Linked DNA regions of Homo sapiens. The protein of the gene in region 3 interacts with the protein of the main gene of each other region in a biochemical or structural test. Each region holds a gene or a part of one and is shown on either strand. Other genes may lie near its edges.

Region 1 (3,474 bases), on a different chromosome or scaffold from region 3:
GGAGATAACGGCAGTGGAGGTGGGCATTGTGGCCATCAGGGGTCTCTTCTCCGGGCGGTACCTGGCCATGAACAAGAGGGGACGACTCTATGCTTCGGTGAGTCCAGGCTGTCACGTGGGTGGGCGCTGACGGAGTAGCGGTCTGGCCTGCACATCAAGCCAGGGGACGGGGGATGTGGGCAGTAGAATGCTTTGCCAAGGGTACACGGGACCCAAGCTAGGACCAGACCCTGGCCCAGGGCTCCACGCCCAGTGATCTTTGGCTGTGTCTGTTAGAGGCTGCTCCGCGAGTGACCTGGAGCCTGGCCCTGGGGGACCTGGGATCTGGAGAATGCCAGGTTAGCAAAGGTTTCCCCCATCCTTGTCATCACTACCACCCTCCCTTGAGAGTAGCTGAGAGCAGGGAAGTGATTGTTCTCCAAATTTCCACCAAAATAAATGGACCCAAGACAACCTGGGAGTGTTCCTTGGGGCAGCCAGAGCTCTCCTGGGAGCATGGAGAGGAGGACGCTGGCCCAGCTCCACCGGCTCTCTCCAAGGGTGGAAAGGCGAGAGCTGAAGCCTAGGAGGGGAAGGGGGATGGCGCCCATGTCCCGGGCACACAGGAGCCTTGGAGCCCTGGCTTGGGACCCAGTCTATCTACTGCCTGGGCCTCCGTGTAACCAAAAAGGGTCTCCTTACTCTGTGGGTATGGCAGCGCCCCTCTTCATAAGGGGTAGGGGTGGGGAATACACAGAGTAAAATACATGTCACAGGGAAATTTGCTACCTCCAACTAGTCATTACATGCAATTTGGCTGATACTTCCTTGGGCAATGAGAGGTTTTCCATCCATGAGTAGCCTGGCTGACGCGGCCCAAGGACAATCTCCCTGCAGTGAGCTCTCTGCTCAGTCCTGCTCACAGAGGACACATCCCGCAGCTCCCTCTCGCAGAAGCTGATGATTTCATCACAGATTTTTAGCCGTTTTGCTAAAGGAAGGTCCAGAAAGCCGGGATGCGCCCCTTCATTTTCTCTGGTCCAGAGGCTACTCCCTCCTTCCTCCCATCCACTCACCCATCCACCCATCCACCCATTCACCCATCCACTCATCCACCCATCCACCCATCCATCCATCCACTCATCCACCCATCCACCCATCCATCCATCCACCTATCCATCCATCCATCCACCCATCCACCCATCCTTCCATTTACCCATCCACCATCCACCTATCCATCCATCCATCCACCCATCCACCCATCCACCCATTTACCCATCCACCCATCCACCCATCCACCTATCCATCCATCCATCCATCCATCCATCCACCTATCCACCCATCCACTCATCCACTCACCCATCCACCTATCCACCCACCCACTCACCCATCCATCCACCCACCCACTCACCCATCCATCCATACACCTATCCATCTGACATTCAGTCCATTCATCAGTCAGTGTCCTGGAAGCTGTGTCTGGGAGCAGGGGCCCTCATGGTGCCAGCTTCTGCCATAGGGGAGCCAGGATTTGGAGAGACAGAATAAAGCATGACATGAGGGGGTCCCAGTGGTTCAGAGCCCACCTGGGGCTTCCGTGCCTGAGAACTCACAGCCTGGCTTTGAGAAGGGTGGACAGAGGCTCCTAGCCCCACCAGGGATGCTTAGCCAAGCAGTCTGGCTGGAGGGTGTGGAACTTTCCAGAGTGCCCAGTGGAGAAGTTCCCATTGCCCTGCAGACAACCTGGGAGGCATAGTAGCCTGGATGCCAACTCCGTCACCTGCCACCTGCCACCTGATACCACAGTCCTGCGTGCGGCCAGCTTGCCTAGGAGTGCTGTCCCACCACGGGGCTCCCTGGACTTTGCCGGCAGCATGCTTGCCCTCAGGCCAGCTCATCTCACTGTGGGCCAGTGAGCACTGCACCCTGACACTCCTGGTCTGGCCCTGACCTCCCTTCTGAGGTATAGACCACCCTCCCCCAACATCCTGCTGACTCAGACACTCGAACCGAACTCAGCAGCTCCCCGACTCCCCATCTTAATCATCGCCCCACCAGCCACTCACTCTCACCCAGAGTGGGCTGGGAGTCATGGTAGACCCCTCCTGCTATTCAGTCCATCCCTAGTCCTCAGACCACGCCCCTGCATCTCTTCAGCCCACACACCTCACCTCCCTCTGCCTCATCCCTGAGAGCACGCCTTAAAAGGCAGGCTCATCACTTCCCACCTGGATCACTGCTCCAGCCTCTCCTACCTCCAGTCCATCTGTTTGTCAAGCCATCCATCCATCTTCCTTCCTTCTTTCCCCTTCCTTTATTCTCTTCACCCATCTGTCCATACACCTCTCCTTCCTTCCTTCTTTCCTTTCTCTCATCCTTCTTTCCATCCATCCTTCCAACCGTTCATCTGTCCATCTGCCCATTCACATGTCCATCCGTCCATGCTCCCTCCTTCCTTCCATCCTTTCACCCATCCACCCATCCACCCATCCACCCATCAACCCATCCACCAATCCATCCAGCAATCCACCCATCCATCCAGCCATCCACCCATCCATCCATCCACCTATCCATCCATCCACCCATCCATCCAACCAGCCATCCACCCATCCACCCATCCACCCATCCACCCATCCATCCATCCATCCATCCATCCATCCATCCATCCACCCATCCACCCATCCATCCATCCAGCCATCCACCCATCCATCCATCCACCTATCCATCCATCCACCTATCCATCCATCCACCCATCCATCCATCCAGCCATCCACCCATCCATCCATCCACCCATCCACCCATCCATCCATCCATCCATCCACCCATCCATCCATCCATCCACCCACCCATCTATCCATCCATCCATCCACCCATCCATCCATCCATCCACCCACCCATCTGACATTCAGTCCTTCGTTCACCAGTCAGTGTCCTGGGCACTTACCATGTGTTGCACTCTGCTAGTGCATGTTAAAGGGGCTTCCTAAAAAAGCAAATCAGCCCAGTTCATGGCTTCTGAGGACTCCCATGATGCGCAGGCATCCCCCAGGCACCTTAGCTCCACCCACAGAGCAGCAGCCCAGGTGCCATCTGCTCCCAGGGGGGCTGTCATCCAGAGGTTGAGCCTCCTCCGGCTTCCGGAAGCCCCCTCAACTCTCCAAGCCATCTGTACTGCTCAGGCCACACCTTCACTGCCTGGAACGCCCTCCTCCAGAAAATGCCCATGAGAAAGTGCCCGCCCCGCCCTTACAGCTCCCTTTAGAAGTCACCTCCTCAACAAAGCAGCTTCGGAGTCGGCTTCCTCCCCACCCTTCATGGGGTGGAAGCGGCCCTGGGGGAGGGGCCTGTGGAACCAGGTCTGGTGGGGCGGCAGTGTCAGGACACACATTGGAAAGTGTTGTCACAGCGAGTCCCAACTGCAGTAGCTCTGGAGTCTATGGCCCTGGCCCCTGAGCCAACACCTTCTGCCCTGGTCATCTTGGCCACCCCAGGTGC
Region 2 (3,500 bases), on a different chromosome or scaffold from region 3:
AATACCAGAATGGTTCTTGTTTTGCTTAACGATTTAGCTTAGAGTTGAACATTTCTTTACTTAAAAACAGCAACTAGTGATGCTGCTATGTGCTAGACAGTAAGATGAAGATAACCTGATGATTTTTAATTGGCCTTGACTAAATAAGTACTTTTATTATACAGTAGGAACATATGTAAATGCTTTTAGATCCATTTACAAAGTATTTTGACAGTTAAAAATACTTTGCATATTTATGGCATATTTCTTTAGTGCATCCTTTCTAATATCTGTTCCCTCCCACCTATCCTTTTAAATTGTTGGGAGGAAGATATAAAGTGGTCCCTACTTTTCCATGGGCTGGGCTTTTGTATCTCATGTGGTGAGACAATCCTGAATCACTCAAGTATGACATATATGCTGACATATGAACATTTTTAACTTCTGTGTGGATATAGAGCTTATATTATCTTTGAACAACAGTTTTTATTTTTTCAGTTTTATTGTATTTTGCCCTTGTTTGAGGTACAGAAGTGTACAAATTTAATATTAATGCATTTGAGACAAAGTGAATCTTTACCTTCAGTCAGATGCTCTGGTATTAATGTGATGGGAAGAATGGGTATGAAATGCTGAAACCCTGGTGTCAAAAGGCATGGTATAATTAGAATTGTTATATTTCCTGTCTCTCTAGCATTAATATGTCTCTATACCATTTGACAATATTATTAATATATATCATAATAAATGTCGTTGATTATGAGAAGACTGGGCTATTCAAATTGCATGGGATATATATATATATATATATTTTTTTTTTTTTTTTTTTTTTTTTTGAGATGGAGTTTCACTCTTGTTGCCCAGGCTGGAGTGCAGTGATGTGATCTTGGCTCACTGCAACCTCTGCCTCCTGGGTTCAAGTGATTCTCCTGCCTCAGCCTCCCAAGTAGTTGGGATTACAGGCATGCGCCACTGTGCCTGACCAATTTTGTATTTTTAGTAGAAACAGGATTTCACCATGTTGGTCAGGCTGATCTCGAACTCCTGGCCTCAAGTTATTCGCCTGCCTCAGCCTCCCAAAGTGCTGAGATTACAGGCGTAAGCCACCTTGCCCAGCCATTTTTTTTTTTTTTTTTTTGAGACAGAGTCTCTGTCATCCAGGCTGGAGTGCAGTGGCGTGATGTCTGCTCACTGCAGCCTCCGCCTCCAGGGTTCAAGCATTCTCCTGCCTCAGCTTCCCAAGTAGCTGGGACTACAGGCACGTGCCACTACACCTGGCTAGTTTTGTATTTTTAGTAGAGATGGGGATTTTTAGTAGAGACAAGGTTTCACCATGTTGGCCAGACTGGTCTCGAACTCCTGAGCTCCGGTGATCTGCCCGCCTCAACCTTCCAGAGTGCTGAGATTACAGGCGTGAGCCACCGTGCCGGCCTGCATGTGATTTTTTTAGCGAATGCAAGGAGAGCCCAAACTCAAGTGTTTTCTCTCATTGGATTCACAAATAGTATTTTATGTAGGGCATTTCAATTTAGGGAAGAAATAAATTGCTTTGACTCCCTGCGTTTTGCTCCTTTAAAAACACTTCAGTTGGTTAATTTTCTTATATTCCTGTCAAAGCATAGAAGTGAACAGGACTTTTGAAGTATTCAGATCAAAAAGTTCTAATGCAGGTCTCCAATATATAACACTTACAAAGTTGTCAATGAGAAAAATTGCTGTTGGATAAATCCATGAATTTGAGTGCAGCAATCTGAGTAACAGTTGCAGCTTATTTTCATATTTTATTTTGGTTGTATACCAGCAAGAATTTTTTTTTTTATGTAGTTGGAGTTGCACATTTTTATATTTACAACCTGGTTTTTTAAACAAATCACTTCGTAGTCTTTGATGTCTCTTACTAAAATAGACATATGAAAAGGGTCTTTATGGTCATCACCAAATGCTTGGCAACAAGATGAGTTGGTCATTTTAAAATGTGTTAAAATTTGGATTATAACACATTTGAACATATCTGTTGTTTTTGTGCATATTTAAGATATATTAATTTTTTTTGGATCAAGCTTTACACAATACTTGAAGCACTTCTGTGGAGCTGCAGAATGAATTTTCGTAAACATTTTTTAAACTCTTTTTAAGAGTTTAAAAAGATGTGCAGAGAGGTTAGCAAAATCACTTGATTAGTATGACTTTGGGATTTGTTCTTAGTCCTGTTTTATTTTTAACTTTATAACAGTCCATTGAAAATTAGAAGTAATAAATTTTAAGAAAAATCAATGCTCTTTAATTTGAAAGAAGGGTATAGCTGTTGGGTTTTAGTTTTACTGATTTGATTAATGTTCTGTAAATATTCATGTTTGCTATTTCAAGAAATGACATAAGAGTAAACTGGTTGGCCGGGCTCAGTGGCTCACGCCTGTAATCTTAGCTTTGGGAGACTGAGGCGGGTGGATCACCTGAGGTCAAGAGTTCGAGACCAGCCTGGCCAATGTGGTGAAACCCTGTCTCTACTAAAATACAAAGATTAGTCAGGCATGGTGGTAGGCACCCGTCATGCCAGCTACTCAGGAGGCTGAGGTAGGAGAATCACCTGAAACTGGGAGGTGGAGGTTGCAGTTAGCCAAGATTGCACCACTGCACTCCAGCCTGGGCAATAGAGTGAGAGACCGTCTCAAAAATAAAAAAAAAAATAAAGTGATTATTCACAGAAATAGATAATGCATGTTTAATAGGTCGGTTTTTTGTAGAGACAGGGACCCACTTTGTTGTCCACACTGCTCTCAAACTGCTGGACTCAAGCGATCTTCCCACCTTGGCCTCCCAAAGTGTTGGGATTTCAGGCGTGAGCCACCATGCCCAGCCAGTAGGTTGGGTTTTTAAAAACTTTTGCACGTTTATGTTTTATTAGTATAAGTTATCATCTTGTTTTTGTTTATTCTTAATTTAGACCGTTCTCTTTAATGTCAGTAGGCTGCCAAGGATTAGGTTTTTCTCTCTTTTTCAGAGGGTTCCAGATTTTTTTTTTTCTCTCTAAGTGTTCCTAGTGAATTTCAAGGTCAGATTAGTTTTTGTGAATTTATAAGTTAGTCTAAAGAGTTTTTAAAAATTTATCCATAAAAATGTTTTTTTATATTACAAGTTAATGTTAAATTGTAATCAGGATAAATTTGCTAGGAATATAACTAATTGTTGCAACTTCATATGCAAATGTTGGGAAAGATCTGTTAAAACTCTTGCATTAAACTTATTTGTCTCTAACCATGCATTTAGGTTGGATAAGAAAAATACTTAAGTTAGTGGGTGCAGCGCACCAGCATGGCACATGTATACATATGTAACTAACCTGCACAATGTGCACATGTACCCTAAAACTTAAAGTATAATAAAAAAAAAAAAAGAAAAATACTTACATAGCTATTCTAAGTAACATTGGGATGCACAGTTAGAAGTTGCAGACAGAATAATGTTTGTAAAATGTGACTATAATACAGTGAGACAAATTCTTTTTACTTTATAGCCATACA
Region 3 (3,500 bases):
TATTGCCGGCCGTCTTTGCCGATGGCCTGCCTCCCTAATGACTTGTTTACATATCCTACCCCCAGTGGGTTAGGAGAAGCTCCGGGGCTGCCCCGACCCTCCGAGTGCAGGGTGTTTGGGGACCGGGAGGCTGCTGGGGCCTGACTCCAGCTGGGAGGGTTATGAACTGCATCAGTGACGAGCTGCTTGAAATATCTGTTGCATTTACTCTTAGTCATAGCTGAGTGTCAGCTTTTTAATGAGGTTCATCCAGATTGAGAGCCACTTGGACTGCGTACTTCACTGCCTGCTTTTCCAAACATGCCTGCAGAAATGCTCATTTTCGAGGTATTTTTCCCAATGGGAATTCAGGCCAGAGTGGGCACCACTTGAACAATCTTAGGGTGCTTCTTTTCCTTGGCCTCTGGCCATGGAGGGTGTTAGACAGTTCCATTAGGTGGCCCTTTGATAGCAAGGGAAGCAAAGGCTCAGGAAGAAATGGAGAAGCGTCCCCCACTCCCTAGGGGCAGAGGATTAGATACATCGGTGCATCCCTCAGGCTGGGCTAGCTTTATTCCTGGTGGACTCCAGAGGGCAAGAAAATTGAATTGAACACTGGGTAGGCAGATTCAAGCCTTAGAGACCAAGGAAAATCCATGGGTTTTGCTTTTAGTGGTGTGCTCTTTGTTTTCAGTATTGACCTGAAACAAGACTCCTAAAATGAGAGATTTGCTGGTATGAACTTGGGGGTTTAGCAGCCGGCTTCTACAAAGGCTTTTTTCTTGCCTTCGTTTCTAAAGTGTCTTTCGTCAAAATGGCTGTTAGTTATAGAACATCCTAGCAAAGTTTGAGCCTGTTGCTGCTGGAGGAAAAGGAGTTAGAATTGATTCAAATGTCTTATTCTGAAAGGGCCTCACATCACTTGATAGTTTAATTTCCTCCTGGGAAATTTGTGTCTTACATTTGTCTTCCCCAGAGCTTTGTAAAAGGCCTGAACGCACCAGGGACTAGTGGGAGCCCAGATGCAGAGCTTTAGAGAAGATTCTGGTGTTTCCAGAGAGGATGAAATGTCAGACTTGGGCTAGGATATTTGTTTTTCCTCCTAAGGTTGCATCTACTTTAAACAGAAATTCTCTCCTCGCCACCATTTATCTCTCCCCTGCAATGAAAGAAACCATGTTTAGGGCCCTCTCCCCCATTTAATAGCCCTCACATGGATGAACTATCCCAAGAATTTGGTGGGGTTCCACTCATAGTACATCCTGTCTTCAAGAGCAAGGTTTTCTAGATTATGTGCAGCAGTTCGTGTTTCACTTGTTGCTTTTTTTTTTTTTTTTTTTTTTTGAGATAGTCTCGCTCTGTCGCCCAGGCTGGAGTGCTGTGGCGCTATCTCAGGTCACTGCAACCTCCGCCTTCCGGTTGAAGCGATTCTCCTGCCCCAGCCTCCCTAGTAGCTGGGATTGCAAGCATGCGCCACCATGTCCGGCTAATTTTTTGTGTTTTTAATAGAGATGGTGTTTCACCATGTTGGCCAGGCTGGGCTTGAACTCCTGACCTCAAGCAATCCGCTGGCCTCGGCCTCCCAAAATGCTGGGATTACAGGTGTGAGCCATTGTGCCTGACCACTTATTGCTAATTTTTTATATGTCTCTTACTTCCAAGGACATTTAGACACTTTTTTTTTTTAAAGAGACTCAAAAAATTAGCATTTCCATTGGACCAACTAAAATTTAGCAAGCTGAGCTGAGTAACTTTCTCCATATGTTTATTAAGTACTTGCCCCCTGCCCTCTCAACATGTGAGTAGAGAATGGTCACTTTGGGGAAGAAATAAGTCTTATTCTCATCTGAAGGGATTAATGTTTTGGTGTTACTTCCTCAATTCTGAAGAACCAAGTTGTCCAGAAATTTTCTCAGGGTTCTTTGGACTAGAGTTTGGCTGGTTAACAAGGGGTACTACCTAATTGCTTTTCTCTGATATTCTCAGCCTCTTTTTCTGGAGGAGTATCTCTGTCAGTTTCTTTTCATCAGCCCTTTTTTTTCCTTCATTCACTTACTCATTCATCCAGTTAACAAACATGTTGGCATCTCCTGTGTACATGCTAGGTGCCGAGGGTGTTAGCAAAGGTTAGGGAGGCACAGACCCTGTTCTGAAGGAGCCTGCAGTTTCGTGGGGAGAGAAGAGAATGAAGAACATAAATAACAATCATATAATATGACCTAAGTGCTATGTGAGAGGGGCTAGTAATGTGGTTTGCAAATTTGGAGGAATGAAATTCTCCAGCTAGAAGGCCCAAGAAAGTCTTATGGAAGAAACAGCTTCTTAAGGTGGGGTTCAGAGAAAAGGGAAGGGCTGGCCTGTTGCAGAACAAGGAATGGCATGAAGAAAGTCTTGCACAGAGGCATGGATGTTGCTTCGAGCTGTGGCGCCCTATAGAAATAGAACATGAGCAGCTGGTCACAGTGGCTCATGCCTGTAATCCCAGCACTTTGGGAGGCCAAGGCAGGCGGATTGCTTGAGCCCATGAGATGGAGATGAGCCTGGACAACATGGTGAGACCCTGTGTCTACCAAAAAATACACAAATTAGATGAGTATGCTCGTGCTTACTGGTAGTCCCGGCTATTCAGGAGGCTGAGGTGGGAGGATCACTTGAGCCTAGGAGGCAGAGGCTGCAATAAGCTGTGATTGCACCACTGCATTCCAGCCTGGGGGACAGAGGAAGACCCTGTTTAAAAAAAAAAAAAAAAAAAAAGCCAGGCACAGTGGCTCATGCCTGTAATCCCAGCCCTTTGGGAGGCCAAGGCAGGTGGATCACCTGAGGTCAGGAGTTCAAGACCAGCCTGGCCAACATGGTGAAACCCTATTTCTACTAAAAATAAAAAAATTAGCCGGGCTTGGTGGCTCATGTCTGTAATCCCAGCTACTTGGGAGGCAGGAGAATCGTTTGAACCCGGGAGGCGGTGGTTGAGCCAAGATTGCGCCACTGCAACTCCAGCCTGAGTGACAGAGCAAGACTCCATCTCAAAGAAAAAAAGAAAGGAAGAAAGAAATATAACATTATAACATGAGTTATGTATATGTTCAGATTTTCTAGAAGCCACATTGGAAATTAAGTTAAAAGAAAGAAATAGGTAAAAAAAATTTTTTTTTTTGAGACGGAGTCTCACTTTGTTGCCAGGCTGGAGTGCAGTGGCGCAATCTCGGCTCACTGCAACCTCTGCCTCCCGGGTTCAAGCAATTCTCCTGCCTCAGCCTCCTGAGTAGCTGGGACTACAGGCGCGCGCCACTGCACGCAGCTAATTTTTGTACTTTTAGTAGAGACGGGGTTTCACCATGTTGGCCAGGATGGTGTCGACCTCTTGACCTCGTGATTTGCCCACCTCAGCCTCCCAAAGTGCTGGGATTACAGGCGTGAGCCACCGCGCCTGGCCAATATTTGTTTTTTAATTAACTTGTTTGTTTAGATTTTATTTAATGTAACTATATTTCCAAAATATTATCATTTGAACATGTAATCAA
Region 4 (3,500 bases), on a different chromosome or scaffold from region 3:
TGCCATGGCAACAGATTGAGCAGCGCTGGAAAGCTGGGATCAAAGCCAAAGCAAGGCAGCTCAACTGAGTTTGAAGCAGGAGAACAGAAAACGTGGGCTAACTTGTGAGAGGCACACTGAACAGCCATGTGAAGAGACAGATGCCTGTGGAAGCATGCAGATATATTTAATAAGACACTTGATTAAAATCTAATAATTAAAACAGTCATGAGAAAGCCACTGAGTTATTTATAGATCACTTGCTCAGATAAGACCAAGAATCAGAAAGACAATGTAAGCTTTAGAGGATTATAATGCAATCACCAGCATCTCAGTAAATGATGGGTGAGGGAAGAATCGGTAATACCCCCTCATCAATTTCACAGTAGAAGCAGATGTGTGGCAGGATGTACTAGGTTAAAGGTATTCTTTCTGTAAGAACGGAATGCATGCAGCCCAGAGGACAGGGGACATGAACAGGAAACAGAGCCATACCTGGTACTGCTCTTAGTTATGGGTCATAAACTGCATCAGTTAGACACAGGAGAAAGCAGTGAACAGTTAATGGAAGGAACTGTTGGCCAGTGTTAACTGGTGACACAGAAAGGAAAGGTCTAGCCACCTGGAGGGGCAGCTACAGCCTAGCCCAGACCTGTAACTTATCTTCTGAGCAGTGCCATGCAATCCAAACCTTGCAGCCCTAAAGTATCTATCTGTTCATAGGAAACACCAGGGTATGGAAGAAAGGATATGGAATTTAGACCCTGAGCCTGAATCTTAGTCTCTGACCCCACTGACAGGCTCCAAATGGAGACCTGTTCTCATCTCCTGCTAGACAGAGCATGATGTTGCAGGAGAGAAGACTGGCTTTGGAGGCAGTAGACCTAGATTCAAACCCAGGCTTTATTGGCCATATAACCCTCATCTATAAATGGAGGTAATGGGAGTTAGGAAGATTACATCCATGTACACAGAGACTTATCAGACACTTAATAATAACAGCAATGAATATTTAATGCTAAGGCTATAATTAAACATATCTAATCCATTTTACAGATGAGGTCTTAAGAGGTTAAATGACTTGCCCAAAGACACATTCAAGTCCCCACATTCTATGCAGTGATTTCATGGTTCAGTATATCTAAGTCAAGATCAGCCTCTGTTCCTCCTTTGAGACCATGAAGTCACACGATTAAGTAGGGAAATTAGAGAGAGGGGATGTGTGGAGAGACCCAGAAAGGCAGCCACTTTAGTGGTGACTGGTTCAAGGTGCACCGTCTCCTGGGACACCTTCCTACCATGGTGGCAATTGTGAGACTGCGCCAAGAGTATCTAAGCATCAGAACAGCAATCACATCACACGAATGGTGAGGTGTCAGCCAGGCCCAGTCTACATTAAGTGGGCCTGGGAGAGAAATCACTCTCTACCGATTTTTTTGTTTTTTTTTTTATGTTTGTTTGGTTTCTTTTTTGAGACAGGGTGTCACTTTGTCACCTAGGCTGGTACCATCTTGGCTCACTGCAACCTCAACCTCCTGGGTTCAAGCGATCCTGCTGCCCCAGCATCACCCCCTCTCCAAGTAGCTGGGACTACAGAAGTGCATCACCATGCCCAGCTAGCTAACTTGAATTTTTAGTAGAGACAGGGTTTCACCAGGTTGCCCAGGCTGGTCTTCTGAGCTCAAGCAATCCACCTACCTTGGCCTCCCAAAGTACTGAGATTACAGGTGTGAGCCACCATCCCTGGCCTCTACCAATTTAAATATGGGGAAACCCACTAAGGATGCTGATGACAGACAGTCCGGAAAATATCCTTAGTCAAGTGTGAACTCAGTTCGCTACTGAAAGAGCATTTAATAGAAATGACATCTCTTCTCTGAAAGCTGTTTAAGCCCAGTAACAGGATACATAGTGAAAAAGGAAAGGAAGATGCCCAGACCAGATGGGTGTTTTAGTTTTTTTTTTTTTTTTTTTTTTCTGTTTTTTCTGGTGGCAGGGGGTGGCGTTTTAAACTTGGGGGCTTGGAGGGGCTGAGGTCAAAGGGCAGCGGGTCTTTCACTGGCTAGAAAGGGAATAGAAAGGCTGAAGGAAAACCATATCTGGATAAAGTTTAAGTTCACTGAGCATGACCTAAGACTACTGGGAGAAAGTTAATTTCCAGCACTCATTTTACCAAACCTATGTAACCCTGATCAGGGATCCCTGAGTTAGCTCCAGAGCTGGAACAGACAGGGCAAAGGGACTGAGCCTCCAACCCTGAGCAGTGGCCAGGCACTCGACATGACAAGCTGGAAGAGCCTGAAGAACGAGCTCTCAGAGGAGAAAGAAGGGAAAGAGCCTCCACGACTCCTCCAGACGCTCAGTCCAGGGCCGCCAGGGTCAGCCACCCTCCCCGCTGTCTCTATCTGTGGCCCTGCCACCAGTCACTCAACCCGACTTTTTGGTCTAGAGTAAGAGCAGCAGCTGTACCCCAATGGCACAGCAAAGCAAATCCCCCTACAGGCACCATGCAAGGCCAGCACAGGCAGCTCAGTGAAGGCAACAGACTCCAGTGCAGGTCCACAAGGGCCCCCTGCGGGAGCGCCTGTCTGCAGGATGCGGGGCAGAGGGAACTGAATTGGAAGCCAAAGGAAGAGGGCAGCTGGGAGCAGGAGCCCCTAGCCCTTTTCAGAATAGGGCAAAGGTACTCAGAACTTCTGACTCTGAGGAAGAGGTACAAGACCTCCTTTCACTGCAGAAGTATCCCAGGACTTAAGCCATGGGAAGAATTCACAACCTTGAAGTCAGAAGTGAAATAAACTGTGTGGTGTCCAATGAAGGAGGATGCCTCCAGAGCAGAAGGAAATGGAGGGGTGGGGGTGTGGGCAGGAATGCAGAACAGGAGAAAAAAAAAAGCCACCTCCACTTCCACCCCCACCCTCTTGCTGCTGTAACTTGGAGGATAATGAAAGGCTGTGCATAAGAGGATGGAGAAACCTAAAAAGCTCTGCACCAGAGCTTGCATCCATCCCAGGCCCAGTCCGAAGCCCTGGGGGATGGGGCAGGCCCCAGAACTCACCAGGTGCTGCATGCGCACAGCCTCCAGAGGATAGTCCCCTTTGGCTGTTTCTCCAGACAGCATGATGCAGTCGGCTCCATCCAGGACTGCATTGGCCACATCACTGCCTTCAGCCCGAGTGGGGCGGGGCTTCTTGATCATGCTCTCCAGCATCTGGGAGGGGACAGAGCATTAGTGAGATGTAGCTTGAGCTGTCTTCAGAGACAAATGACAGCAAGCTGATCCTCTGGATAGTGAGTAGGTACACAGAGTATGGCTTTGTGTAGGTACATGGGGGAAGGGGATTATCTGTGTGTTACGTGCGACAATTCCATGGGAAGAGATCAGACAGCCTCCAGAGCTTTCCCATACAAACATGCGAGTGTGCACATGAGAATGTGGGGAAGGGTGGGCACATGCCTGAGTAGCACAGATGACAGGCTTCCCAGCTCGGTTGCACCGTCCAATCATCATCTTCTGAGCA
Region 5 (3,500 bases), on a different chromosome or scaffold from region 3:
GGCACTGGGCAAGGGACGGCCGTGAGACAGGATGAATGGCACACTGCTGGCTGACCCATGCCATGCCAGGGAACAGGTGGGGGTCGGGGGATTCCTGCTGCGGGTAGGAACGGGGGGAGGGGGAAGCACCCAGAAAATCCCAGGGAAGCCTTCCAATATTGCTGCTGGCTGGGAGTAAGTGGTCACCTGGCTGGAGGAGACGCACATGTGTTAGGCCAAGAGTGAGCCTGCGTGACCATGCACTGAGTGGACAGTGGCCGCTGTGCTGGGGCAGTTGAAGATGGGGCCATTCCTGAGTAAGTCCGGTCCCAAACCCATCCTCCCCGGTGGGAAAGGGCCAGGGAGGCAAGGGTCACGCCCAGCAGCCTACAGGGAGGGGTTCAGCCCCAGAAGAGCCTTGCCCCATCCCACCCCACCTGGCCTCCCACTACACCCGCAGGTCCCTCAGGGAGTCCTCTGTCCTCTGCTCCAAAGTGCCTGCTTTGGTCTGATGGGAAGCAGCTTGCCAGGGAGGGACCTGGGAGGTTGTGGAGCCTGGCTAGACCTGGAGTGACTGCCTCCTCCCTGAAAACACACACACACACCCCATCACCACCACCACCACACACCTTGAGAAGGGAACCTCCAGCGGTGCCCTGCACATGTGCCCTGCACACCTGCCTGTCAGTTCTCAGGTTCTGCCTGGAGTTCCTCTCAAAGGAGAAGCAACAAGAGAGCCCTTCAACAGCACAGCAGAGACTATCCGGCTTCTCCTGCCCTTGTCTCCTGGGGACATGGTGCCTGGTGACTCAGTGGGCCAGAGTGGGGGTGGGGCTGGGGGCTCAGCACAGGGCACATGAAAGGGTCAGAGTGTGGTGCTGGGCCCATGTGCTTGCAGGCCTGGGAGCCTGGGGGGCTTCTGTGCCTGTTGGTGTGTATACGATGGTGTGGGTGTCACCTACACCCTGTGCACTGTGTCCCTTTAAGGCTCCCGCTGGCCCTCCCCGCCCCGCTCCCCAGGCCGTGGCTGGCGGGTTTCTATGGTGATGCAGCCCAAGTCCCAGAGGTGGGGGAAGCCAGAGGAAAGCCTTGTTATGTGTTATGTAGACAGCACATAAAGGGGGCTGCTCCAGGGAGCCCCCACAGGTACCTGGGGGCCCAGAAGTCCTTTATGACTGCTGCTTAGTCCCTGCACTCCCAACCTCACCCCTCCCTAAGAGGGTACCCTTAGGAGAGAGTGAGCCCTCAGCCCCCTCATCTCGCCTGAGGCTTCAGTCTCCAAGGCAACTACAACTCACCTGTAATGGACCATTCTCCTTAAAAGATGGGGAAAAGAGACGGAGGTTAACCCTTTGTGGGGTTCAGGGAGGACGGTCTTGACTACTGGGGAAGGGAGGGAGGAGCCCCACTCCATCCCCACAATCACATGCCTCTGTGGTCTGTTCTATTAAATCAACTTACAGCGTGGACTTACCACGTACCAGAAAGCCTCATGAGCACTTCCACTCACATCCACTCATCTCCTCCCCAGATTTGCCTCAGGGAGGGAGGTGCTATCATCATCCCCATTTTACAGATGAGGACACGGAGGCTCAGAAAACTGGAAACTGTGTCCAAGATCACAGAGCTGGCACTGGGTCTCAGCAGGGGTGGGGTTTTAGAGGGCGTGGTGGCTCCCTAAGCTGCCTCTCAGAGGCTCTGGCATCCCAACATGTGTGCCTGCTGGGCTTCCCAGGGAACCAGGGGCCTGGGCGAGGATGGCCTCCAAGCCATCCTGCCCCGTGGGGAGGGCTTACTTGCCAGGCAGATGGCAGGCAAATGTCGGGGGCAGGGAGTGACATCTTGGGATGGAGGCCATGCGGAAGTAGGATGTGATCAACATCACGTCTCAGCACAGAGCTGAAGCCCGACACCAAACAAACCCCCAAGTCCCCCATCCAGGTACTCAGTCCAAGAGAAGGCCAACTCCTTTCCCTTTTGGGCTTGGGGACAGGCTGGTTTCTTGGTCCCCTCTTCTGCTCTCTGGAATCTGGACTTGTTCTGATACCTTTCTTGCAACCAGAGGCTCCAGAACCCCTCCCAAAGAGGCCCCTCTCCAATCAGCATTTAGGGACAGCAGTGGCCCCATTCTTGTGTCGAAGGAGATACTGATGCCCAGCAGGCGGCAAGGCTTCAGCCTCCGAGACCCCTAGAAGGCGAGAGAAATGAGGTGGCAGCAAAACTAGGGCTCCTCTCAGGCCCCAGGCCTCCTCAGGGAGCTAGGATGACCCTAGCACTAGAGGGGGCTTCAGCGGCCAGGCCAGAAGGAACAGACTGCATCCAGTTCCTGGGGCTGTGGCCTGAAAAGGAGAGCAGGGAAGGAGCCCAGCCTGGGGCAGGGAGAGGCCCTGGCCCACAGCAGTCCTGGGATACCTAGCCTGTGTTGGTTTGCGGGGGGCGGGGTGGGGGTGCCTGGAAACAGCTCAGACACTGCCAGGCCCCACGGGCCCCCTCCAGGGGCCCCACTCCCGAGGGGTTAAAGGGCAGAGGGGGACACAGGAAGCCCGGGGGCGGACAATGGGGCCTCTGTGATCCCCAGGGCTTGGGCATTCCTAAGTCATGAACACAGACGCAGATGGCTGGGAGACAGGGCCACAGGGAACCCCCCTCCACTGAAGCACAGCCTGGGTTGGCCAGAGGCTCTGTCCCCATCCAGCCACTGCAGCAGCCACCCTCAGCCCCACCCCTTCCCAGCACAGGCCCTGTTGGGGCATCTGAGGAGACCCACGTGGCCTCATGACAATATGTGTGTGCATGCTGGTTCACGAACACACACACACATGCAACCAAATATATGACCCCACCCAGACAAACAGGAATACTGGAGGTTACACACACACAAATACACACACACAAGCAGAGACACAAACCCCATACATGCAGATAGGAAGTCTGCCTGGCTGGAGGGCAGGGGGCAGAGGGGCTCCCGGGACTCAGTCCCTTTCCCTCAAGTTCCACTCTCAGACCCGCACTGGGATGGACGGGTTCAGAAGTCCTCTTTGGCCAAGTGCATGGAGCCCAGGACGCTGCCACCCTCCTGCCCCACCCAACCCCTGGCCCTCGCAGCTGCCCCTGCTGGGTGTAAGGGCCAGAGATGAGCAGGAGCTGCTGACTGACAGTGGCTGGGCACTCCCTCTGCAGCTTTCCAACCTGGGAAGAACACGGGGACCTGGGCTGGGGGCCACTGGACAAAGAAAAGCTTCTAGAAAGAACAGCGGCCAGACCCTCCCCAGCTCCTCCCTCTTTTTCCAGCCACAGCCTTCAGGAAGCCACAAAGACCCTGTTGATATCTGGGGAAGAGGCAAGCTGGGCGGGCTACCTCCCCCAGTGCTCGTCTGGCTGCTGCTCACCAGGCACCCCCCATACAGCCTTCCACTCAGACAAGGCCCCCATGGGGGGTCTGGGCCCAACCCCAAGGCGTAGAGTCCAGCAGAAGGGTGCTGAGTGGCTGCTGGACAGGGCACAACCTCAGGGCCCTCAAG
Region 6 (3,500 bases), on a different chromosome or scaffold from region 3:
GGACATTGCAAGAACCCTTTCTTTAATATTTTGATTAATATGGTTTCTTTAATATCTTCATTAATGCCACTCTCCTTCTTTCCATGTTACCTTCCCACACATATTTTCATAGTTTTCTAGCATATCCTATGTTATTATGTGGGAAAAAGATAATTTATTTGCCATCTTTGAATTATATTAACAATAGGCTAAAATTCTAGTTAGGGCTTTATAGTCCCCTGGTATCCCAATACCTTATATCTACTGCTTGCTGACCCCAGAGAACTCTCTCTCTCTCTTCCAGGGAAATGGGTGATCGACCCCTCAGAGCTCACTTTTGTGCAAGAGATTGGCAGTGGGCAATTTGGGTTGGTGCATCTGGGCTACTGGCTCAACAAGGACAAGGTGGCTATCAAAACCATTCGGGAAGGGGCTATGTCAGAAGAGGACTTCATAGAGGAGGCTGAAGTAATGATGTGAGTGCTCAGAACAAGGATATGCAGAAACTCTGGGGGGAACATCGGTTCAGTGTTCTTGAAATGCCATTCAAACGCCAGGGGGTACTATCTCCCTGCGCAAACTCCCAGCAGTGGCTTCCTATTGCACAGAGAATACAATCAAACTCTTCACAGTGGTCTCCAAGGCCCACCATAATCTGATCATGCCCACCTCCCCCTTCTCAGCTCCTACCCATCTCTCCTCCAGTCCATGACATGCCAGCCACACTGGCCTCTGCTCATCTTCACACACACAGCTGACTCCTTGCCATTTTTCAGGTCTCAGCTCCAATGACATGTTTTTGTTTTGGGGAGGGAATGAATATTATTTTCATCCAAACCATAAATTAGACAAAATGACCATTGGCTATTTTGGTACCATAATATTTTCGGCATTTTTGGGAGACTGAGTTTAGGCCATCTCACCCCTTGTCTTTTTCCTCCAGGAAACTCTCTCATCCCAAACTGGTGCAGCTGTATGGGGTGTGCCTGGAGCAGGCCCCCATCTGCCTGGTGTTTGAGTTCATGGAGCACGGCTGCCTGTCAGATTATCTACGCACCCAGCGGGGACTTTTTGCTGCAGAGACCCTGCTGGGCATGTGTCTGGATGTGTGTGAGGGCATGGCCTACCTGGAAGAGGCATGTGTCATCCACAGAGACTTGGTATGAGCATGCAGGGTGAACACCCACAGGTCCAGGGTAAAGGGACAGTTCTCACTGAAATGACTGGGAACGCATTAATAAATAATACATTACAGATAATCTCCTTTCCTTTCTCAACTTCTCCCTTCCTTCACCTACTTTGGGTGGTCCTAGTGGAAAGGGCTTCATGAGGACTTACTTCTGGGCTCTGATCCCAGCCCAAACTCTTTCACCTCCTGCATTTCAGTTTATATTCTTCCAAAATGGAGATAACTGCCACTCCTTCTTAACCTCTCTGTGACTCAATTTCCTCCTGGTAAATTGAGGAAACTGAGTTTGTCTGAAGGTATTATTCAAGGGTCTACCAGAATCACACTGGGGAAGCCCTTAAGCTACTCTCAGAATCTCTGGTGGCTGGGACTCAGGAATATTCATTTTAACACATTCCCCGTATGATTTGTATGCACATTAAAATTTGAGATATGCAGCTGGGTGCGGTGGCTCATGCCTGTACTCCCAGCACTTTGGGAGGCCGAGGTGGGCGAATCACGAGGTCAGGAGTTCGAGACCACCCTGGCCAACATGGTGAAACCCCATCTCTACTGAAAATTCAAAAAATTAGCTGAGCTTACTGGCGGGCACCTGTAACCCTAGCTACTTGGGAGGCTGAGGCAGGAGAATCACTTGAACCCAGGAGGCAGAGGTTGCAGTGAGCTGAGATCAAGCCACTACACTCCAGCCTGGGTGACACAGTAAGACTCCATCTAAAAAAAAAAAAAAAAAAAAAATTGAGACACACTGGAGTGTTATCTCCAATGGCTTTTTCAATGCAACAGTCTATAATACTAATTAGGGGTCAGGTACTCTCCCTATTGAAGAACAGTTTTAAGAGGATTAACAACATCAAAACATTCTTAATTTAGTCAACTGGGAGATGCTTTCTTCCTGTTATCCCTGATGTTAACATTTCCTATCACATCAGGTTGCATTAGAGCCTATCTTTGGTTAGACAACACCAAGGATTTCTAATTAGAACTCAAGAATGAAGATAAACTTACTCATCTTGATAGTGGATCTTACACATTCAACTTTCCAGTTAACTTCCAGCGGCATTTGTGAGGCTTAATTAACATTTGTAAAGCTCCATGATGCCCTTGTATGACAGCACTGCAGTAAAGCAAAGGACTGTGATTATAGGAGACTCCTTAACTACTGATGACTCATCAACAGTTTTCCTCTCCGCCTTTGTTTGCCTGTCTCCTCTCCAGGCTGCCAGAAATTGTTTGGTGGGAGAAAACCAAGTCATCAAGGTGTCTGACTTTGGGATGACAAGGTAAAAGAGGGATGTGGTGCCGGTGAAGTCTCAGGAATGGGACTGAGGCCCCCGGAACATTCTGACCTTCTCCCTCCACTCTCTTCCCAGGTTCGTTCTGGATGATCAGTACACCAGTTCCACAGGCACCAAATTCCCGGTGAAGTGGGCATCCCCAGAGGTTTTCTCTTTCAGTCGCTATAGCAGCAAGTCCGATGTGTGGTCATTTGGTGAGTGTCATGCTGGGCCCCACTGCCCCATGATCTGGGCTTCAGGCCAGCTGTTTCCTTTATCAAATGCAGACAACCCTACCCACACTGAACCCTGTATCATATCATGAGGGTGTCCCACTGGAGGGTTGTGTAAGAAAGGCCCCGAAAACTATGAAAGGGCCTTCATCATTTTGTTTGTTTTTAGAGATACTGGACATGGTGGTGGGAGTTAATTAAAAGTGGAAACAAGAGTTCTGGTGCCAGCTGCTGTGAAGTCAAAAGCTGGAGAAGTCAGGAGATTCAAATATGAGCCCCTTGAAGGCAGGGACCATGTTTTGTCCAACACTACATTTCCATACTTATCTCTCAATAAGTATTAATATTTATTCATTCATTCAACAACAATTAACTGATCATCTATTCTATGCCAAGGGCTAATCTAGGTGCTGAGGATGCAGTGGTTCATAGAACAGAAAAGACTTCTGTTCTTTTGGAACTAAATTTGAGATGGGAGGGGAGACAGAAAATCACAAAAGATCATAATAACAGTCATAAACAATAATAATAATAAACAAGCTAAGGGATAGAAGATAAAGCCAGGCAATCATAAGTAGGTGCTATGAATAAAATAAAACAGTAATGGGGCAGAGTGACTAGGATAGAGAGAGGGTCTGCTTTGAATAGTGTGGTGTGGGAAGGCCTTTCTCAGAAGGTAATTCTTCAGCAGAGACTTGAATGATAGGAGGGAGCTGTCACCATTTGAAGAGCCAGGGAACAGTGTCCCTGACAGAGGGACCAGCAAGTGCAAAAACTTGGTGCATCCAAAGAACAAGGGGTACTGACTTATTGGGAGAACAA
Region 7 (3,500 bases), on a different chromosome or scaffold from region 3:
TTAGTTTCTGTGTCTTTCACATGACTTGCTTTCATTCATGCCATAAATCATGTACCCAATATAAGATACCTATCTCACTAAGCATGATATTTTGGTTACTTTTGTGTTGTTTGTCTTCCATAGAGTTTTTTTTTTTTTCCCCAGAAGAAAGCATAGCAAATATTCAAATCATAGTAATTTTCTGCTTTGTGATATCTGGAGTGTCTAATACTACTTCATAAAATTTTTACTACCTTTGATCAATGCAGAATTTGCATGTAATTTGGGAATTTAACATGGATCTCTGCCATTACCTAGCTGTAAAAGAGAAACAGAAACTTGCTAATTACAATTGGTCATTTACCTCTTTGAAGGCAGTAGTTGATGTTTCCTGACATTCGTGTAAACTAAGGTGTTGGCCATGGCCTTTCTTAGAGTATGTGAGGAAATGTGTTTAAATCTCCTAAGAGAGGCTGAGAGGGCTGGATCAAGGGCCACAGAGGATACCTCAGTTTGATCTCATCTTCTATTTCTACTGTATGTGAGTTAGTGATGATAGAAAACCTATTCTTTTTGTTACAACCCTGATACTTCAGAAAAGTCAAAGCTTTGCCATGAAACTGCATTCTAACAAGTTATTTTAAACCTAATAATATTCTGTAGTATTTGTCTGATAGAACAGATAATCATATGTGTTTCGCAAACTATTATTTGACAGTAAACTTTTTTTTTTTTTTTGCAAATTGCAAATGTTTTCTGGTTTCACCATGAGAAGTGCACCATGGCCATGGACTTTCAAACATAATTTGTTTAGTTTACATGGACCAATTAATATACTCTTAGCTTCTCTTACACAATAATTATCCCAAGTTTTGAACACAGAAAATGAAATCAAGCTCATTGTATATAAATCCTTATTATGAGGAAATACTGTGGAAAAATGAAGAAATATGAACAAGGCAAGATAGATGACCCAACTATTGCATGGAAACAAATGGTTTGGTTTAATTTATACGCCTTCAAGTTTAATGTCAATACAGTGCTTCTGTTGACTTACCTTGGGCCATTGAAGAATAGGCAATCAAGTAGTTGTCAGTTTAGGGAAGAAAAGTTTAAGGCTTTGTCAAAGCGTTTACATAAAATATGAAAATTCCAAGCACATATTTTGGTTAATAGAATCGTCGATGTTACTGCTTTTTAAAAAAATCTAAATTCACTACCAATTTTGGGGTCATGTGGAGTCATTAGACAGTCCCCCAAGCCTAGATAAATCAGAATCTATATCTACTATGCAGAAAAATCAAGTGGAAAATTTCTGTTGCTAATTTAATCAGTGAAGACTGCTAAACTGAATATTTCAAGATTCAGATTTCATAACTTGGCACAGCATATCTGTTACTTTGTGGATGCAAGTAGAGAAACTTCAGTTTTAAAATATTTTTGTCTGGGGATTTTCAGATGCGTTGTTGAAAGCTTCTGAATACATGGAATATCTGTGCTTTTCTATATTTTATTCATTAACAAAAGAGAGAAAAAGGAAAAATGTGTATAGTTGTATCAACCACTATCAGTAGAGCCCTATTATATTAAGAAATCTGCAGAGGACTAAGTCAAAAATCTAGAAATATGTTTTTTTTTACGGAAGTAAGCTTACATCATAATGCATAAGTGGAATAGACTGTGTGTATAAGCTGAGAGACACCAAGACATTCTTGCCTTCTTCAGCCTAGGTGTCAATGCTGAAATTCCACAAAGAGAATAATTCCTTCTGTTAAGCATTCTCCTCTTCTTTTGACCCTCTTAAATGGGAACACCTTAAGAAAAATAACACACTGTCTGTAGCACTTTAATGTGAATTTATTTACACTGAGCCACCCGTCCACCCCGTGCCTTCTCAAGCAGGAGAAGGCCACAGTAGCAGGAGAGTACTAAGACACCTGTCCATACTTGTGTATGCATGGGGTGTCCTGACAAGAGAAAAGAGAGGTAGTGAGAGGATCAAAGAAGGCAGTCAAATTTAGCAAACAGTCATTGACTATATACCATCTACAAGACAAGCTTGGCCTTCCACAGTTTGGCTTAGAAATACTGCCTTGGCATCCATAAGGAGAATTGTAAGTTTCCATCAAATTTAATATGCGTGACTCCCGATGATAAAGGTCAGAAAATTACTGAAATTAAAAAAAATCAATGTCAGAGAAATGTTTTCAGAAATTTATATATTTGTGATTTAAGGCACATGGGTTTAAAAAATTACGTAGAATTCCTGAATGAGTTACTGAGATTTGTCATAGCAAAATCAATAGGCCTGTGATGTTTTGGGGAGGAGGGCAGGAAACTGAACTGTGAGACTCATTGAATCTGCTCCAGAAAACAAGGCATTGTGAAATCACTGCTGACATTACTTTGGAAATTATGATCATAACAGTGTTCTTAATATTAGGTCATAATTACGGTAAGATTTAGAAGATCAATACCAAAGTTACTCACGTGAAAAATAATTCATTCATCTAGTCTCATCTCTTACATCTCCTGCATTCTTTATAATGTTAAATAGAATGACATATGTAAAGTGTATTTTTAAGCTTTCAGTTAAAGATAATTTTCTTAAGGTTATAAAATCTTTTAATTCTCAGGCACTATATCATTTTTATCCTGGAAGTTTTAAGAAGAAACCCAGCAATATGTAATACAATAATAACACTTTCACATATATTATTTCATCTTCCCCATATTTAAAATACATTACATGCAACTTGTACATAATATATACACAGAGTGTACACTGTATTGAAATACATGTTAAATGCATCTAAATGGGTCTTTGTTTAAAGAGAGAATGAGCTAATTATCAGAAACTATTTATTTAAGCAAAGCAGTAGTATTTCTATTAAAACAAATATTTATAAAGCCTTTTTATCTCAACATCTTAAAAGTTAGCATATAAACACATACACTTATGAGACTTTAATCTTTTATTCTGCCATGTATTTTTTCATTAATATACAATATATCTGCATGTTCAAAACCAGATAATTTTCCAGGGAATGGAATTAAAAGCCTCTAACAATCTAGCACCATGAGTAAATTGGAGGAAATATACAATCAAATCTCTCCTGTATCAACTCCATGTTGTCCCTTTTGTATCCATCATTCCACACATATACAATTTCCTTCTTTCTTTCTTTCTCATTTTTGAATGCACATGTTTACATAAATATTCACAATCACATCCCCCATCTCCCAAATATCTAAAATCATTAATGCTATTCCCAATATCATTCCGTATTTCCAATAGAAATTTAACTTTGTATCACTGTTATAGTCATGCTTTAGTAATAATATTATTATAACATATTACATCTGTGTAGAGTAACTTTACAAAGCATTTGGTGTGTTTTGTTAATATTTGATAAAATGATAATGCTTCTAAACCTTTAGAAGCACACTCAAACAATGTTCATAATAAATCCTATTATAAATAGCATTTAAAAACATTTTGAAGGAAAGGATTTATACAG

The links.
Region 1: the proteins of FGFR1 (region 3) and FGF3 interact in a test that uses a peptide from one of them, tested with the Homo sapiens proteins (one study listed by BioGRID).
Region 2: the proteins of FGFR1 (region 3) and ZMYM2 form a complex in vitro, tested with the Homo sapiens proteins (one study listed by BioGRID).
Region 4: the proteins of FGFR1 (region 3) and PKM form a complex in vitro, tested with the Homo sapiens proteins (one study listed by BioGRID).
Region 5: the proteins of FGFR1 (region 3) and L1CAM form a complex in vitro, tested with the Homo sapiens proteins (one study listed by BioGRID).
Region 6: the proteins of FGFR1 (region 3) and ITK interact in a test that uses a peptide from one of them, tested with the Homo sapiens proteins (one study listed by BioGRID).
Region 7: the proteins of FGFR1 (region 3) and FGF5 interact in a test that uses a peptide from one of them, tested with the Homo sapiens proteins (one study listed by BioGRID).

The regions. Positions count from the first base shown.
Region 1 is NC_000011.10:69,812,943-69,816,416, reverse strand, and holds part of FGF3 (fibroblast growth factor 3 precursor), read left to right. Parts: coding exon 1-97; intron 98-3,474. UniProt on the Homo sapiens protein: Plays an important role in the regulation of embryonic development, cell proliferation, and cell differentiation. Required for normal ear development.
Region 2 is NC_000013.11:19,961,727-19,965,226, forward strand, and holds part of ZMYM2 (zinc finger MYM-type protein 2), read left to right. Parts: intron 1-3,493; coding exon of another isoform or gene 3,494-3,500. UniProt on the Homo sapiens protein: Involved in the negative regulation of transcription.
Region 3 is NC_000008.11:38,462,136-38,465,635, reverse strand, and holds part of FGFR1 (fibroblast growth factor receptor 1 isoform 1 precursor), read left to right. Parts: intron 1-3,500. UniProt on the Homo sapiens protein: Tyrosine-protein kinase that acts as a cell-surface receptor for fibroblast growth factors and plays an essential role in the regulation of embryonic development, cell proliferation, differentiation and migration.
Region 4 is NC_000015.10:72,203,691-72,207,190, forward strand, and holds part of PKM (pyruvate kinase PKM), read right to left. Parts: coding exon 3,437-3,500; intron 3,191-3,436; coding exon 3,038-3,190; intron 1-3,037. UniProt on the Homo sapiens protein: Catalyzes the final rate-limiting step of glycolysis by mediating the transfer of a phosphoryl group from phosphoenolpyruvate (PEP) to ADP, generating ATP.
Region 5 is NC_000023.11:153,879,674-153,883,173, forward strand, and holds part of L1CAM (neural cell adhesion molecule L1 isoform 1 precursor), read right to left. Parts: intron 1,046-3,500; exon of another isoform or gene 999-1,045; intron 1-998. UniProt on the Homo sapiens protein: Neural cell adhesion molecule involved in the dynamics of cell adhesion and in the generation of transmembrane signals at tyrosine kinase receptors.
Region 6 is NC_000005.10:157,243,340-157,246,839, forward strand, and holds part of ITK (tyrosine-protein kinase ITK/TSK), read left to right. Parts: intron 1-283; coding exon 284-455; intron 456-922; coding exon 923-1,139; intron 1,140-2,386; coding exon 2,387-2,451; intron 2,452-2,541; coding exon 2,542-2,660; intron 2,661-3,500. UniProt on the Homo sapiens protein: Tyrosine kinase that plays an essential role in regulation of the adaptive immune response. Regulates the development, function and differentiation of conventional T-cells and nonconventional NKT-cells.
Region 7 is NC_000004.12:80,269,664-80,273,163, forward strand, and holds part of FGF5 (fibroblast growth factor 5 isoform 1 precursor), read left to right. Parts: intron 1-3,500. UniProt on the Homo sapiens protein: Plays an important role in the regulation of cell proliferation and cell differentiation. Required for normal regulation of the hair growth cycle.